Linked DNA regions of Homo sapiens. The protein of the gene in region 1 interacts with the protein of each later gene in a pairwise test. Each region holds a gene or a part of one and is shown in the gene's direction. Other genes may lie near its edges.

Region 1 (3,906 bases):
AGGAGAGGGTGAGAATAAAAGGGAGGAGAGTGACAGAGAAGAAAGACTCTTTGACTCTGTCAAAGTGGGCAGAGCTCTGGAGGTGTAGGGTTTCTGCTGGTGAGGGCATCATAGTACAATCAATGAGTTTAGGACTTCACCTCACCATTTTTTTTTCCTTTTTTTGAGACGGAGTCTTGCTCTGTCACCCAGGCTGGAGTACAGTGGCAAGATCTCAGCTCACCACAACCTCTGCCTCCCAAGTTCAAGCAATTCTCCTGTCTCAGCCTCCCTAGTAGTTGGGATTACAGGCATGCACAACCCTGCCCAGCTAATTTTTGTATTTTTGGTAGAGACAGGGTTTCACCATGTTGATCAGGCTAATCTTGAACTCCTGACCTCAGGTGATCCACCTGCTTTGGCCTCCTAGACTGTTGGGGTTATAGGCGTGAGCCACCGCGACGGGCTGACCTCACCATTGTAGACATTGCTTGCATAGTCTGATCTGTAACCTTAGACCTTTGATCTCATATTGAAGGTCATAATTACCCTGGTTTATCTGACTTTGGGAATGCAAAATGCCTCCCTAGCACTGACCACCTGTACATTTACATTTCGCTTTTCTTTTTTTATTTCTGTTCCAGCTAGCCTGGCACCCACTCAAATATCTTGAACAAATAGAGATTTATCGTAAATAGGCATATGGGGTCTCATGGAGGCCCAAGAACTAGATCATAATATAGTGGGCCTTGTCAACCCAAAATAATCAAAAAGGTCAGAATCTAGTTTAAAGAGAGTTCGTTCAAGTGCAAAGTTTAAGGACAGCTGCCTGGGAAGCACAAATTCCAAAAAATGGAAGTCAATGTTTTGAAGTATATAAGTTTGGGATCATTTATATAAACAAAGTTTAGGGAAGCTTAAGAGAGTTTTAACGTCTTTCTATATAAGGCTTTCTATATAAGGCTTATAGTAATGCATGGTTATAGTAATCTGATTAGCTGAGGTGGTCTTTTTCTTTTGGGAAATGTGTATTTAACATTCCACACTGAAGGTGTAACAATTACACTGAAGACGTAACAATCATGAGCTAAATGGTCTGAGTTAGGTACAGGACAAAAAAGGAGGCAATTAATCTGTAACATAGATCAGTCATTAGAAAGGGGAAAGGTCTGGCCTCTCCTAGTCATTTACAGAACAAGAACAATGAGGAAGAGAGTTAATCTATAATCTAATAAGCAGAAGTTGCAAACACGCTACACGTGATTCAGTCTCCAGGGCTTAACTTCCTTTTGACATAATAAATTTAGAGGGTCTTGAAATTTTATTTTCTTTTATTGCCATATGGACCCTGGAGCAGGAAGATGACTGAGGATCCAAGGCAGCTTTGGAAGCCTTAGTAGAGGAGTTTACAGGTCTTTTCTTATTTTCAACAGGAAGAATTAGCCTCTTATTTTTAATTTGTGGTTTTTCTCACAATGATGTAATGACCTCTCTGGCTTCCTCTAAATTATGACTTTCCTGATATAACTACAGCACTAATCAAAAAAAACCCCGTTTCCAAGAATCTGATGACTTATTTTAGTCAATTGTGCCAGGTGGATGACCACTTTCTGGATTGGCTTCTCTGGGGCAGGTGCCCATCTGTAATCTTATCAGTTATGACAAGAGGAGGAAAGAAGTACAAGAAAGAAAAAATGACCTTAGAAGTAGCTATGGTTAGAGCAACCCTGTAAAAGTGGGAACATGAAAAACACCTCCTGTATATCTACCACATCTTTCCTTTTAGCCTGCAAATGCCTGAGGGAGCAGCTCCTGGAACTCCCACTGTTTCACAGAGTGCTGACCTCTACATAGATACTCAACAGATACTGTTTGGTAGAATGATATTCTTAGCAGGTGGGAGTTTTGTTAGGTATTCCTCCCATTGAAAGCAGCTCTGGGGTATGTGTGAATTGCTGAAAATGGTTTTATAAAAGGAAAACATTTCAATCAGAGGATCTAACCTGAATGTTTCCATACGAATGATGATTATGTTCTCTTTATAAAGCAATCCTCAATTATTGTAAACTTTCTTTTTATCTCATTTGGAGGTAGAGAAAAGATATTTTAGTGTCAGAAATAAAGATTTGACATATAGAACAACTACATTTTGATGAAATCCTTTCATTTCTGGAAGAACTAGACTGATTATTTTACATACAGAGGTTTTGTTTGGTCAAGTACAGAAATAGTTCAAATATTTCTATGGGAAACAAGAAAAAGAAAAGGTCTTATGACTTTTCTTTGGAGAATGCCAAATTGACAGGTTGCCCCCACTCCCTCCCACCTTCCATCTAATCTATCTTTGAACTTAGCCAAAGTAGAAAAGAACATTGTAAAAACCTTCAGGGTTTAGTTCATAGCTGAGGCAATGAGCTCAGAGCTCTGCTCTTTGGTGGTTCCATCTGAACTGTCACCTCAGGAACGAACAACTTACAAAACATGCTTTGGATCCTAAGGGGTTTGGGTGAGAGGAAGAAGATGAATAAATGGAAATGGATTCTCACCACTGGAGAAAAAATTAGAAGTGCATGCCTTGCCAATGGTGGGTGGCAACACCATCCTTCTATGTGAAGAGCATCATAATAAAGACTATTTCTTTTGGGAATTCTATAATTCTTGAGTTCTACCTTTTTGCCATCTATGTTCAAGGTAGCCTTCAGTGAGGACTGTCCACCAGAACTGTTTTATTTAAGTACATATAACACAACAAAACTCTAGAAAAGAAAACCAATTATTCTTAGGCAATTGTCAATGTTGTCATGACCACACAATTCTATGCTCATGTCTTTCTGCTGTAGTGTAAGACAGAACACATACCTTTCATTTTATGACAAAATCTTGAGTATTAAATTGTGTTTTATTATATGCAGGCTTATTGAGCAAATGGAGACTTATTCCTTGTCTTTGGGTAATCAATCAGTGGTGGAACCTAACATAGCAATACAGTCAGCAAATTTCTCTTCAGAAAATGCGGTGGGGCCTTCAAATGTTCGCTTCTCTGTGCAGAAAGGTGAGCTGTTAATCTTATGTGCTTGTAACAGCAAAGAGCATTCTGCTACTGATGATGAATAATAATGCTCTACTCATGATAATGTAGACTTTTACAATTCTACTCTTTCCCTTCTCATAGGAGCTAGCAGTTCTCTAGTTTCTAGTTCAACATTTATACATACAAATGTGGATGGCCTTAACCCAGATGCACAGACTGAGCTTCAGGTCTTGCTTAATATGACGAAAAGTAAGTCTCAAACTTTGTGACATTTAAAAAAATGGACTCGAATTCATGGAACTAATAACTTCTAATTTACTCTAGGAGAAATAATGTCTACTTAGTTTCATACTGAGTAATTTGCATTTGAGTAAGTTTGAGCTCTGACATATTATGGTAATCTCAACTCTACTATTCTAAGTCAAAAAGATAATTTCTTTGTTTTTTCTTTTTTCAAAAGCCTTTTGGAAGGTAGCAGAATTGAAATGTTCAGGCCATGTACACAAATATGTTTTCCTACAAAAATCTTGCTAAGGTGGTTCTGTTTTACACTTACAAATTTAAGACATATTCAATCACAAGCTCTGACCATGTTTACTAGTGGCATGACACTCTCAGGCTCAGATGCATCCTGCAGACCTAACCCTGGAGAAGTCTATGTAATTGGCACAGACATCATTTAGTAGTATCAATTTTAGGTTATCTCCTCTCTGTGGTGCCCACCATGTGCTCACTATTGTCCTACATATAACCTTTCAGAAATTCTTACACGTAACTTGAAGTGGTTGTATTTTTCAAAATCTAAAAAAAAAATAAGTAAATCAAACAGACACACTTACTTTTCATTTCTCCCCAAGCAAAAAAACCCGATGTCAGAAAGTATATGTGTTAGATAG
Region 2 (3,728 bases), on another chromosome or scaffold:
GTACAGATGGGGTTTCATGGTGTTAGCCAGTTTGGTCTCTATCTCCTGACCTCGTGATCCGCCCACCTCAGCCTCCCAAAGTGCTGGGATTACAGGCATGAGCCACTGCGCCTGGCCGCTGTATCACATTTTATGTTGTCACTTGATTAACATGCATAGTATTTAAAATGCTTTAGCTATAAAATTAAGATTGATTCTAAAACAACTGCTTTGAACTAGGCTCACCAGTAAGTGAAATTTTAATTAATATTTTGTCTTGTTTAAGAAGCTGACCTTGGGGCTCTGGAATTATGGAGAACTTCAGACTTGGGAAAAAGCTTCAAAACTATTGGTGTGAAAATCTACTCATTTGGTCTTGGGGGACGTTTCCTTTTTGCCTCTGTGATGGCTGATAAGGTAGGTATTGCCCTCTCCCCTTTGGGGTCTGATATTTCTGCAAATATCTCTCGTATAGATTCTCTTTATTACTTGGCATTGACAGAGTTTCTTGTCTTTTTGTTATATTTAGTACCACTGTGAGTGTTAGGGGTGATTCTTTTTGCAAAGGCTGATTGACTGATAGGCTACTCTGCACTTTGGCCTTCTGTCACCATGTGAATTCTGTTATCTTTTTTGGGATTTTTTTTTTTTTTGAAACAAAGTCTCTCTCTGTTGCCTAGGCTGGAGTGCAGTGACGCAATCTCGGCTCACTGCACCCTCCGCCTCCCAGATTAAAGCAATTCACCTGCCTCAACCTCCCAAGTAAGTGGGACTATAGGTGTGCACCACCACACCCGGATAATTTTTGTATTTTTAGTAGAGATGGGGTTTTGCCATGTTGGCCGGGCTGGTCTTGAACTCCTGAGCTCAGGTGATCCCCCCGCCTCAGCCTCCCAAAGTGCTGGGATTATAGGCGTGAGCCACCGCGCCCGGCCAGGATATTTTGATCCAGTGTTTGGGCATTACTCAGACAATGGACATCTGTAGAAAGCAATCTCTTGCTCATTATCCAAGAATAAAAATACAATTAGATAACATTAATTGAGTGCCTACTATATGCTAGGTACTATTCTAAGTCCCAGGAATATGGCAGTGAACAAAACAGATGAATTTCCTGCTCTCAGAACTTATGTTTAAGGGGGAAAATAAATACTCAAAAAATAAATATGAAGGCTGGGGGTAGTGGCTCACACTTGTAATCTCAGGACTTTGGGAGGCTGAGGCGGGTGGATCCCTTGAGCCCAGGAATTCAAGACCAGCCTGGGCAACATGACAAAACCCTGTCTCTACAAAAAATAAGAAAATTAGCCAGGCATGGTGGCATGTGCCTGTAGTCTCAGCTACTTGGGAGGCTGAGGTGGGAGGATCATCTGAGCCTGGGGAGGTTGAGGCTGCAGTGAGCTGTGATCATGCCACTGCATTCCAGCCTGGGTAACAGCACAAGACCCTGTCTCATAAATAAATATAAATGTGAGTGTGTGTGTATCAGGTAATAATTAAAGCCGCGAAGAAATCTAAAACAGTAAGAAAACAAAGTGTCAGGAGTCAGTGCTCTTTTAGACAGACTGTTTAGGATGGGCTCTCTGAGACCTAAGTGAAACAAGAACTTGACCATGTGGCCATCTGGGAGGAGAGTAGGATGAGGCACAGCCAGTGCAGAGACCCTCAGACTGGAGCATGCCCGATCAATCCAAGCAAAGGGGAGAAGGGCAGTATGGGGGGAGCACAGAGAATAATAGTCCAAAGTGGGGCCAGAGGGGGCCTGGCCAGACCTTATGTGGCCTTTGTAGATCACAATTAGGATGTGGGCCTTACTCTTCTTGTGTTGGGAGCTGTGAGAGGGTTGTGAGCAGGGGAATGCTGAGATTTGGCTTCTCTTTTGAAGAATAGGTGTGCGCAGAACAGCCTGACAGGGGCACGCGCAGAAGCAGCGGGAGCGCCGGGAGCTCTCTCAGGAGTCCAAGCTGGGGAGGTGGTAGCTTGGCCAGGCTCTTGGCAGTGGGTAAGGGGGCAGGTGGTGAGACTGTGGATACATTTTTAAACATATTACTAATAGGACTTGCTGATGGATTTGATGTGGGTTGTGAGAGAATGAGTGGAATCAAGGGTACCTTTAAGAGTCTGTATCCTGAGCGCCTGAATGGTGGTGCCATTTTCTAGGATGGCAAAGACTGCAGGAGGAGCAGGTTGTGGGAGAAAAATCAAGAATTCTGTTTTGGGCCGAGCATGGTGGCTCACGCCTTAATCCCAGCCCTTTAGGAGGCTAAGACGAGCAAATCACTTGAGGTCAGGAGTTTGAGAGCAGCCTGGCCAACATGGCGAAACCCTGTCTCTACTAAAAGATACAAAAAATTAGCCAAGCGTGGTGGCGCAGGCCTGTAATCCCAGCTACTCGGGAGGCTGATGCACAAGAATCAACTGGACTGTGGAGACGGAGGTTGCAGTGAGCCAAGATCATGCCACTGCACTCCAGCCTGGGAAACAGAGTGAGACTCTGTCTCAAAAAAAATAAAAAAAGAATTCAGTTCTGCATATGAGACACCTATTAGATATCTGAATGGAGATGTCAAGTGAGCATTTGGGTATATGAATCTCCCTAATTGCTATGGTATTTGAAGCCATGTGACCAGATGATACCTTCTGGAGGAGTAAGTAGGTAGCAAAGAGGTGGGAGGACTGAGCAAGCCCTGAAGCACCCACAACTGAAAGGTTGGAAAGAGAAGAATCCAGCAAAGAAGACTGAGAGGGAGGGATCCGGGAGGAAGAGGGAAATCAGGACCATTGAGTTAGGTGCATTCTGAGAATTATCCACTGGAGTTGGCGACGTGGAGGTTGTTGGTGACCTTGACAAAAGCACTTCATTGGAAGTTAAAAGGCCGATTGGAGTGACTTCAGTGAGAACTAGAGATGAAGAAGTAGGCAGTAAATACAGATAACTCTCCAAAGCCATTTTGTAATATCCTCCCAATAACCCTGTGAGCTAATAGTATTACCTCAGTTTTATAGGTGAGGAAATTGAGTAACTTACCTAGGGTCAACCAGTAGTGGAATCCTGCTGGAAATCAGACTCAAATTCCAGAGGTAGCTTCCTATGCTATACTGCATATATGGTATAATGCTGTCTACAGAATTAAAATTTTGCGATGTACTTTTGAACTCTGGTTTCTACCTACAGTAATGAGAATAAGATTCAAAGTAATGAGACATGTTGGTATAAGTTGAATAAGTTAAATGTACTTATCACTGAACTTTAAAGAGTATTTAATCTAAGGAAACACCGACATTAATTCTCATGCTCAGGCTAACTGTATCTAGTAGCGATGTTAAGCTATTTATCAGAGAGTTAAGTTTTAATTGCTTTCTTAACAGACTCTTTTCGTCAGCCAAATACTCCCTAATCAGTTTCCTTATAGTAATTTCCGACTCTCCTTGGCCTCTTTCCAGCCCATGCCTGTTCCCTTCATCCTGGCTATTCTGAGAGACTTCCTTAGAGAGAAGGCGTGTTACATCTTGACTTCCCTTGTGATCTCCCAAACATGGGTTTCATCTCTATTTTCTAGACCCTTAAGTATATAATTCTTTAAATTATGCAAGCACTGTATGAAAGGGACCAAACTTTTATGCAGTAGTCATCATTTTAAGAATTACCTGAGTGTATGCAAATGGCTATAAAGCCAACCTAATGTTCTCATCAAATCCTTAGCTCTACTGAAGGAGGTGGACTATCAGAGACCAAGACTATACTATCT

The links. Proteins that work in one complex are often made in the same cells at the same time.
Region 2: the proteins of ADGRG7 (region 1) and SORT1 interact in binary tests that used the Homo sapiens proteins (3 or more experiments, as listed by UniProt).

What each region holds. Positions count from the first base shown.
Region 1 is NC_000003.12:100,640,375-100,644,280, forward strand, and holds part of ADGRG7 (adhesion G-protein coupled receptor G7 isoform 1 precursor), read left to right. Parts: intron 1-2,891; coding exon 2,892-3,031; intron 3,032-3,151; coding exon 3,152-3,259; intron 3,260-3,906. UniProt on the Homo sapiens protein: Orphan receptor.
Region 2 is NC_000001.11:109,342,419-109,346,146, reverse strand, and holds part of SORT1 (sortilin isoform 1 preproprotein), read left to right. Parts: intron 1-265; coding exon 266-396; intron 397-3,728.